Homo sapiens: one gene and its partners. The protein of the gene in region 1 purifies or fractionates together with the protein of each later gene. This does not show direct contact. Each region holds a gene or a part of one and is shown in the gene's direction. Other genes may lie near its edges. The genes, in order: GAS6, MFSD8 and PCDHGC4.

What was found.
Region 2: the proteins of GAS6 (region 1) and MFSD8 fractionate together in Homo sapiens (co-fractionation; one large-scale study listed by BioGRID). This does not show direct contact.
Region 3: the proteins of GAS6 (region 1) and PCDHGC4 purify together in Homo sapiens (co-immunoprecipitation; one large-scale study listed by IntAct). This does not show direct contact.

The regions. Positions count from the first base shown.
Region 1 is NC_000013.11:113,829,538-113,833,190, reverse strand, and holds part of GAS6 (growth arrest-specific protein 6 precursor), read left to right. Parts: intron 1-438; coding exon 439-557; intron 558-702; coding exon 703-892; intron 893-3,653. UniProt on the Homo sapiens protein: Ligand for tyrosine-protein kinase receptors AXL, TYRO3 and MER whose signaling is implicated in cell growth and survival, cell adhesion and cell migration.
Region 2 is NC_000004.12:127,941,039-127,944,691, reverse strand, and holds part of MFSD8 (major facilitator superfamily domain-containing protein 8), read left to right. Parts: intron 1-699; coding exon 700-940; intron 941-2,533; coding exon 2,534-2,647; coding exon of another isoform or gene 2,648-2,653; intron 2,654-3,653. UniProt on the Homo sapiens protein: Outward-rectifying chloride channel involved in endolysosomal chloride homeostasis, membrane fusion and function. Conducts chloride currents up to hundreds of picoamperes.
Region 3 is NC_000005.10:141,508,889-141,511,264, forward strand, and holds part of PCDHGC4 (protocadherin gamma-C4 isoform 1 precursor), read left to right. Parts: intron 1-2,058; coding exon 2,059-2,285; 3' UTR 2,286-2,376. Other genes in the region: PCDHGA1 (protocadherin gamma-A1 isoform 1 precursor), read left to right, coding at 2,059-2,285; PCDHGA2 (protocadherin gamma-A2 isoform 1 precursor), read left to right, coding at 2,059-2,285; PCDHGA3 (protocadherin gamma-A3 isoform 1 precursor), read left to right, coding at 2,059-2,285; PCDHGB1 (protocadherin gamma-B1 isoform 1 precursor), read left to right, coding at 2,059-2,285; PCDHGA4 (protocadherin gamma-A4 isoform 1 precursor), read left to right, coding at 2,059-2,285; PCDHGB2 (protocadherin gamma-B2 isoform 1 precursor), read left to right, coding at 2,059-2,285; PCDHGA5 (protocadherin gamma-A5 isoform 1 precursor), read left to right, coding at 2,059-2,285; PCDHGB3 (protocadherin gamma-B3 isoform 1 precursor), read left to right, coding at 2,059-2,285; PCDHGA6 (protocadherin gamma-A6 isoform 1 precursor), read left to right, coding at 2,059-2,285; PCDHGA7 (protocadherin gamma-A7 isoform 1 precursor), read left to right, coding at 2,059-2,285; and 11 more. UniProt on the Homo sapiens protein: Potential calcium-dependent cell-adhesion protein. May be involved in the establishment and maintenance of specific neuronal connections in the brain.

The DNA.
Region 1 (3,653 bases):
ACCGGCTTTGGTTCTGTCCCCCTTCGGGCAGCGTGGAGAAACCACAGCCCAGAACAGGGAACTTTCCAGGACAGCCATCTTCAAGGCATCCATATCTATTTCATAATAGTGTATACTTTTTAATGATTCTCTGTAATTTTTGTATGCTTGAAATATTTCATAATTTAAAAATAAAGGGTCAAGGGAAATGAGCAGGGAAGGAGATGACGGGGACCCCCGAGAAGCCCTGTGGGAAGCGGCTGCTGCAAGCCCGCCCTTCACCTGGGAGTCCCAGTGGGGCAGGTGTGACAGCCTCTGGGGTCTCAGCAGCTAGAGGCGGGGTGGCCACTCCCGAGGCACAGGAGGGACAGTGGACCCGCTGCGCGGCCGGGGCGTGGGGCTCAGGGGAGCAGGAGTGAAGGCCACATCCCCGACCGGCGTGGCCCCCGTCCGTGGCAGGACATCTTGCCGTGCGTGCCCTTCAGCGTGGCCAAGAGTGTGAAGTCCTTGTACCTGGGCCGGATGTTCAGTGGGACCCCCGTGATCCGACTGCGCTTCAAGAGGCTGCAGCCCACCAGGTGAGGAGGTGTCCACAGGAGGCAACACAACTTAGAATGGCCAAGACACTGGCTTCACAGGGCCCGGGCCAGGGTTCGGCCAGCAGGGAGGGGCCGGGCATCTGCCTGTGCCCAGTGCTGACTCATTTCTCCTGTGGGTGCCCAGGCTGGTAGCTGAGTTTGACTTCCGGACCTTTGACCCCGAGGGCATCCTCCTCTTTGCCGGAGGCCACCAGGACAGCACCTGGATCGTGCTGGCCCTGAGAGCCGGCCGGCTGGAGCTGCAGCTGCGCTACAACGGTGTCGGCCGTGTCACCAGCAGCGGCCCGGTCATCAACCATGGCATGTGGCAGACAGTGAGTGTGCGGCAGCCACCCCTTCCAGGCCTCACGGGGTTCTCCCTGAGCCAGACTCAGCTGTCACTCGCTTATGCAACCGTTAGGAGATGAGCTCTGGGGCCTGCATCTGCTGCGTGCCGGCAGGACGGGGACCCCTGCCCCGTTTAGTTCATGCTCCGGGAGACGGGGACCCCTGCCCCGTTTAGTTCATGCTCCGGGGGACGGGGACCCCTGCCCCGTTTAGTTCATGCTCCGGGGGACGGGGACCCCTGCCCCGTTTAGTTCATGCTCCGGGGGACGGGGACCCCTGCCCCGTTTAGTTCATGCTCCGGGGGACGGGGACCCCTGCCCCGTTTAGTTCATGCTCCGGGGGACGGGGACCCCTGCCCCGTTTAGTTCATGCTCCGGGGGACGGGGACCCCTGCCCCGTTTAGTTCATGCTCCGGGGGACGGGGACCCCTGCCCCGTTTAGTTCATGCTCCGGGGGACGGGGACCCCTGCCCCGTTTAGTTCATGCTCCGGGGGACGGGGACCCCTGCCCCGTTTAGTTCATGCTCCGGGGGACGGGGACCCCTGCCCCGTTTAGTTCATGCTCTGGGGGCTCACTGTGGTGCTCTAGGCCTCTCTGCTATTTCATCACGTTTCAGCCTGGCTCCCTCAGAAAGGGGCCTTGAGTGCAACCTGTCAGTTTGGTCTCCCTGAGTTTGGTCACCCTGGCTCAGGTAGAACCCGTGGTTCTCAGCCCCAGGGGACCCTGGGCTGTGTCTGGAGGCCATGCTGTTTATCCCGAGCAGAGTGGGGAACAGAAGCCAGGGCTGCTTGACGCTACACGCAGGGTGCCCCACCAGGGGAGGAGGCCGCCACTGAACCCGCACCACAGCCCAGAGCTCCCGCCGTACGTGTCTCCCGGGCCGTGGCCAGGCCAGGCGCCGCCCGCCCACCCTTCCCTGTAGGACGGCGTGGACGCTGCGGTCCCTGAGCCCTGGCTCCCAGGGCCTGCTGGTCAGTGCGGCCATGCATGCCAAGGGTCCAGGTGACCTCACGGGAGCTGCCCCTTGCCAGAGACGTCCTGACCACCTGGACCCCAGCCCCATGGGCAACCTGAGGGGTCCTGGTCAGACCTGCACTTGGGCAGCTGTGGGCAGCGGTAAAACGTGCCCACCCCACATCCCCATCCGTGGAGCGAGAGGGCCTGTAAGCAACCAGGCTCCCGCCCACAGCGCTGGGCCTCCCTCACCATACTGGGCTTGCAGAAGGAAACGTTGGGAAGAAAGGTGGAAAGCACGTCTTGCCCTTCAGAAACATTGTAGACTTGTATTTCCATCCTGCAAAGCAATGCCTCGCTCCATTTTTCCCAACCTCTTAAAGGAGCAGTATCTCCAAGAGCAGGAGGCTGTTCTCAGCAAAGCTACAGAAAGCAAAGGAAGCAGAAGCAGTTTCAGGGATGGAGCCCCGGGGAGGAGGGCCCCAGGGCAGGTGGCCTGAGGCGAGGTCGCCTGGGGGAGCGGTGTTGCAGGGGATGGAGCCATGGGGAGGAGGGGCCCGGGGCAGGTGGCCTGAGGCGAGGTCGCCTGGAGGGAGTGGTGTTGCAGGGGATGGAGCCATGGGGAGGAGGGGCCCGGGGCAGGTGGCCTGAGGCGAGGTCGCCTGGGGGAGCGGTGTTGCAGGGGATGGAGCCATGGGGAGGAGGGGCCCGGGGCAGGTGGCCTGAGGCGAGGTCACCTGGGGGAGCGGTGTTGCAGGGGATGGAGCCACGGGGAGGAGGGGCCCGGGGCAGGTGGCCTGAGGCGAGGTCACCTGGGGGAGTGGTGTTGCAGGGGATGGAGCCACGGGGAGGAGGGGCCCGGGGCAGGTGGCCTGAGGCGAGGTCGCCTGGGGGAGCGGTGTTGCAGGGGATGGAGCCACGGGGAGGAGGGGCCCAGGGCAGGTGGCCTGAGGCGAGGTCACCTGGGGGAGCGGTGTTGCAGTGTAGTCCCGCCCAGTGACTCACAGCGGCCGCAGCACCCCACCAAGACAGGCCCTTCCCCAGCAGGGGTACCTCATGAGGACCCCTCCCCAATTCCACCCTCTCTAGCTGCTGCCCAAACCCAGCTGACCCGAATTTGTACCATGTTTTTGTGACTCAGTTCAAACCCAAATACCTGAAAGGTGTTTTCACACAGGAAGAAGGATATTCTTCTGAAGCTCAGGAATATAGTGTATCTAGCATTAGACTTTACAGGTTTTCTATGAGGAAAGGTTTTGGTGACCACATTGATGCATCGAGGGCCCTCCTGGCCCAGATGATGAGCAGGGACTCTCTGAGGTTGGGACCCTCTTGGCTCAGGTGTGGATCAGGTGGTCTCCTTGAGGTCAGGTCCCTCTTGGCTCAGGTGAGGATCAGGTGGTCTCCCTGAGATTGGGACCTTCTTGGCTCAGGTGTGGATCAGGGGGTCTCCCTGAGATTGGGACCCTCTTGGCTCAGGTGAGGATCAGGTGGTCTCCCCGAGGTCAGGTCCCTCTTGGCCCAGGTGAGGATCAGGTGGCCTCCCTGAGATTGGGACCCTCTTGGCCCAGGTGAGGATCAGGTGGACTCCCTGAGGTCAGGTCCCTCTTGGCCCAGGTGAGGATCAGGTGGACTCCCTGAGGTCAGGTCCCTCTTGGCCCAGGTGAGGATCAGATGGTCTCCTTGAGATCAGGTCCCTCATGGCTCAGGTGAGGATCAGGTGGTCTCTCTGAGGTTGGGACCCTCTTGGCTCAGGTGTGGATCAGGTGGTCTCTCTGAAGTTGGGACCCTCTT
Region 2 (3,653 bases), on another chromosome or scaffold:
GAGACCCTGTCTCAAAAAAAAAATAAAAATAAAAATAAACAATAGTGCCTTTTCTAAGCTAACATTTTCTATTTTTCTGAAAGTATTTTATTTTCTGAGTTGTAGTCATTTGGTTCTCCCCTTAAGTTCATCATGATATGTAAACCCTTTTAAAGTGGTAGAATACTGAGTGGTCTATATAGAACGGAAGAATTTATAACAGGTTTATTGAGATAATTGTCTATCATCTTTTGTGTTTTTATTATCTTCTTTATGCATTTGACTCTTGTGCCTAGTTTTTTTAAAAAAAATGATTTACAGCGCTAATGGCTGTTTAACGTATAGGGTAGCATAAGTCTAAAGAATTCTATTTACAAGAATTAAAGAATAGCTTATATTATTTTTCATGATGTTATTGCTATATGCGTATATAGTGTGTGTGATTATCTTCTTACCAAGGTTTATATGAACCAAAAATTTCCAGTCATTCTTAAAAATGAGCCTCCCAAGCATTTTTCCCTTGTGTACAGTCTATTGTTAGCACATTTAATTGTATTGTCAGAAGTTTGAATCCCTTACTATAAGTAATAGTGTTATAAAACTTATACGTTAGAATTGTTTTTATTTTTTGATAGGAAATCTTACATGGTATGACAAATGTATTTAGTTTTAAACTTTTCTTGGATAACAATTCTTAAAGCACTGTACCTTTTTCTGCAGATTGATCCGACAGCTGATACAAGTTTTTTGGGCTGGGTTATTGCTTCATATAGTCTTGGCCAAATGGTAGCTTCACCTATATTTGGTTTATGGTCTAATTATAGACCAAGAAAAGAGCCTCTTATTGTCTCCATCTTGATTTCCGTGGCAGCCAACTGCCTCTATGCATATCTCCACATCCCAGCTTCTCATAATAAATACTACATGCTGGTTGCTCGTGGATTGTTGGGAATTGGAGCAGGTAAGGTTGTATGTATATGTTTGGTTGTGTCATATTCACATTCATTCTGACATTTATGGCTCACTTTTAACTGGTCTCATCCCCTTTTAAACTCATATTTCACAGTTCAACATACATGTTTCTCATTGTAAACAAATATTTTTCTTATCATTTTGCCTTTGCTCATGATGTTCTCATTACCTATAGTTTCTCTTCTGTTCTCATCATTCTTCATCCTTCAAGATTCAGTTTAAACCAGGTGTGGTGGCACGTGCCTATAATACCAGCTACTCAGGAGACTGAGGTAGCAGAATCTCTTGAGCCCAGGAGTTCGAGGCCAGCCTGGGTAACATAGGGAGACCTCCATCTAAAAAAAAAAAAACCCAAAACAAAAATAGATCCAATTCAAGCTCCACATTTTCCACAAAGCCATCTTGGGCTACCCTGCCCCTTGAGAGATTTTTTTCTTCTCTGACATGTCTCTGGCACTTGCTTATAGTATTGTACTGTTTCTATCCTTTCTCACTAACCAGATAATAATTTTTTTTTTTTTTTGAAACGGAGTCTTACTCTGTCACCCAGACTGGAATGCAGTGGCGCAATCTTGGCTCACTGCATCCTCTACCTGCCTGGGTTCAAGCAATTCTCCTGCCTCAGCCTCCCGAGTAGCTGGGATTACAGGCGTCTGCCACTGCACCTGGCTAATTTTTGTATTTTTAGTAGAGACGCAGTTTCACCATCTTGGCCAGGCTGGTCTTGAACTCCTGACCTCGTGATCCACTCGCCTCGGCCTCCCAAAGTGCTGGGATTACAGGCATGAGCCACCATTCCCAACCTAAACTTTTTGCAATTAGAAAGAATTAATGATACTTTAAAAATATCCTATGCCCCCTAACAGAGTCTCTTGAATGTAATGTACTCAATGAAAATTTTCAGTAAAATTGTTAGTGCATTTTTTTCTGTTTCTTATATTACATGTCTATGCATACAGAGTTTGTAATATTGTAATACTTTTCTTTTAAAAACAGTTGTAGTAATCAATGGTATGCCATTCACTCAGTGCTTTTTTAGTACTAAGTAAGTTTGATATTCTTTTTTTTTTTTTTTCACTGTTGCCCAGGCTAGAGTGCAGTGGCGTGATCTTGGCTCATTGCAACCTCAGCATCCTGGGTTCAAGCAGTTCTTCTGCCTCAGCCTCCTGAGTAGTTGGGACTACAGGTGGATAATTTTTGAATTTTTAATAGAGACGGGGTTTCACCGTGTTGGCCAGGCTGGTCTTGAACTCCTGACCTCAAAATGATCCACCTACCTCAACCTCTGAAAGTGCTGGGGTTACAGATGTGAGCCACTGTGCCCGGCTTGGTTTTCTTATGATACCATTTTTTCACTCATTGATATCTTTAACTGTTTTCATATTACCAAAACTAGTATGGTCCATTAATTGATGCATTTGCTTAATAAAAATACCTTACATGCTTTGTGTGATCATAAAGAGGAAGCAGTGACTGTACTGTTGACCAAGATTTCTTCTTCTGTATAAAGTCAAATTGGATTGAATTTTATAAGCTGAATGATACTTTCTTTTACTTTGGATTATTGTGTCTTGTTTTTAAGGAAATGTAGCAGTTGTTAGATCATATACTGCTGGTGCTACTTCCCTTCAGGAAAGAACAAGTTCCATGGCAAACATAAGCATGTGTCAAGCATTAGGTTTTATTCTAGGTCCAGGTAGGTGTTCTTCACATGTCATTACTTGAATTTGAATTGGGAAAACTTTTGAGGCTTAAATATTCAGTGTAACCCAAGTATAAAAACTCATAGCTGAAGGGAAAGGGAGGAAAGCTAATTTTTTTTTTAATCCAGGAATGAGGCTACACTCATTTTATCTTGATGCCAATCCACTAAATTAAGTGCTATTAGTCCCCTTTTATAGTTGAGAGTGCCAGTGCATAGAGAATCTAAGTAAATTGTCCAAGGTCACCCTTTTGCTGAGTGTTAAAAAAATTAGTGAGGCCATGCGTGGTGGTCCACACCTGTAATCTCAGCACTTTGGGGGTCTGTGGAAGGCAGATCACCTGAGGTCAGGAGTTTGAGACCAGCCTGGCCAACATGGTGAAACCCCATCTCTACTAAAAATACAAAAATTAGCCAGGTGTGGTGGCGGGCACCTGTAATCCCAGCTACTTGGGAGGCTGAGGCAGGGGAATCGCTTGAACTCGGAGGCAGAGGTTGCAGTGAGCTGAGATCACATCATTGCACTCCAGCTTGGGCAACAAGCGCGAGACTCTGTCTCAAAAAAAATTAATGAGATTTAGTATTTCCTCAAGGCAAATTAATTTTCTGCTGAGTAAAGAATCAGTCATTTTCATGCCTAGAATAATATTGAAAAACCATATAATTGGTCCATATTTTGAATATTGAAGTTATGAATATTATCAGTTTGAATCCAACTCAGCTTACTTCATCATTAACACCCCATCTCCCACCCCCAGTTTCCATTACGTTCCTCTATTTAGCCAAAAAGAAAAGGCTCAACAGAAGGGAATCTAATTCACTGTTCACCAAAATCTACTATTTCAGTTTTGTACCCTGAAACAAATACAAGCACAAATGTAGAATAATTGAACTTGAATACTATATTGTAAAGTACATGAGGACATGGTTTGAGTCTTTATTTACCAGTCTACCCTCAGTATCTAGCATAATACCTGGTATAGACTTATGTTCTTAGTAA
Region 3 (2,376 bases), on another chromosome or scaffold:
GAGGGGGCGGGGCGGTGGCGGATCTGGCTTCCTTTTGGAGTTAATTAGGGAAAACAGAGAAATGTCAGCGGAATGAAAGGGCTGGGGGTGGGGGCCAGCTGGGGTAGGAGAGGAGGAAGTGGGCAGCTGCTCCCTCCCACTCAACCCCTCTCCCCCGCCCCCAGAAAGCTCTCAGCTCCGGGGATTTGCGACATGAAATGGGGGCTGTAGAAACCTGAGCGCTGGTGCGTGAAGAGAAAAACCGAGGCGCATCCCGGCTCTCCCCTCCCGTGTGCCCTCCTCCTCTTATGCCGGCTTGAAAATATTTCCTGTCTCTCTATTTCTCAATCCCTGGTTGATGTCCCAGGATTACTCAGCCTCTCCGGCTTTAGTCACTCTCGCTACCCGCTCCCAGGGTCCAGGGTGGAGGCAGAGGGAGGCTGGGAGAGAAGCTCTACTGCCAGCTGGGCCTGGGCTGGCCTGGGCATCCCTGAGGTTTTAACTGTCTCCTAACCACAGAGGATCTCAGGGCCTCCAGCAGCGAGCCCCAATGAGTCAAACTCTTGTTTCCTCCTCTCCCACCCCCGACCCAGTCAGGGCAGGTGAGGGGTAGAGGTGATGGCATGCTGGATGTGACGGTGTTGATGATGTATTGCACAGGATGAAGCACCATCTCATTTAGTCCTCACAGCAGCCTTCACAGTGCGTACAAATCAGCTGGCAATTCCGAGAGGCTGCATTCTAAACAAGTTCCTGGGTGATGCTGAGCCAGGGCCAGAGTGTGGACTTCTCTGGGCCCCAGTTTCTTCTTCTGTACAGTGGGACGTTGGACTGGAGGTGCTGTCTGATGTCACCTAGCTGTGGCACTCTGAGCCTGTGCCTAAAGTGTCCCTGAGATGTCTAGTCCCCGAGATCATCATCTCCTCAGCTTCATAGAGCCGAGCTCTTCTCCATCTTCTCTCTACCTCCCATTCACTCAGAACAGGGATAAGGTCCAAGCTGCTGGTGGTGATGGTGACTGACTGTCCCTTCCAGCATGCGCTTAGGTACACTTGGGCCTGAATGCCCCTCTAACAAATGCTACCGGGTATGGCCTTGGTCCTTCTAACACTTGGTTCCCTCATCTGTAAAATGAGGGTCATACCACATAGCTGGCTGGGCTGTTATGTAGAGGTTAAAAGTGATTGTGCATGTGAAGCATCCAGCAGAGTGCCTGGCACACAGTAGGTGCTCAAATGCTGTTTTGAAATACAAAAATTAGCTGGGCTAGTGGTGTGCACCTGTAATCTCAGCTACTCAGGAGGTTGAGGCAGGAGAATCACTTGAGCCCAGGAGGCAGAGGTTGCAGTGAGCCGGGATCGCGCCACTGCACTCCAGGCTGGGCGACAGAGCAGGACTCCATCTTAAAAAAAAAAAAAAAAAAATGCTGTTTTGAAATGGAGGCTTGGAAGAGCACTCTTCACCCCCACCCCACACACTTACTAACGGAACTACCGAATCTCTACTCGTGCCAGGCCTTGCTTGGCAAAGGCTAGGGGCATGTAAAGCCATGGTTTCATGGCTGCTGCCCTCCAGGAGCCCATGGTCTAGTGTGGGAGTCAGAGGCTCCCTTGAGAAAGCCAGGGCAAGGAACTGAGAGCCCGTGTCACAGCCCTGAGAGAAATACCAGCGAATGTGTTTTGAGCACTTACATCTACCAGGCACTATTTTACGTACCTGACATACATTTTCTTATTTAGCATTCACTAAAACCAGAAGAGGTGGTTACCATTATCATCCCCATTTTGCAGATGAGAAAACTGAAGTGGCATAAGGAGGTTAGGTAGACTTGCCCAGGATCACAGTGAGTAAGGAAAGGAGCTAGGAATCAAACCTAGACTTTCTCACTCCAGAGCCTCTTAACCTCTACCCTCAACTCTTGTGAAGAGAGACTACCTTGGTGACCCCTATATTCCCAGTGCTCAGCGTGGTCAAGGCCCAGGGTGCTGTATAGGCATTCATTAACTGCTGGGGATATAAGACAGTGACTGTTGAGGACCCTAAGTTTAGCTCCCACCTGATCTTCCTCTGTCTCTGCAGAAGCTGCTGATGGGAGCTCCACCCTGGGAGGGGGTGCCGGCACCATGGGATTGAGCGCCCGCTACGGACCCCAGTTCACCCTGCAGCACGTGCCCGACTACCGCCAGAATGTCTACATCCCAGGCAGCAATGCCACACTGACCAACGCAGCTGGCAAGCGGGATGGCAAGGCCCCAGCAGGTGGCAATGGCAACAAGAAGAAGTCGGGCAAGAAGGAGAAGAAGTAACATGGAGGCCAGGCCAAGAGCCACAGGGCGGCCTCTCCCCAACCAGCCCAGCTTCTCCTTACCTGCACCCAGGCCTCAGAGTTTCAGGGCT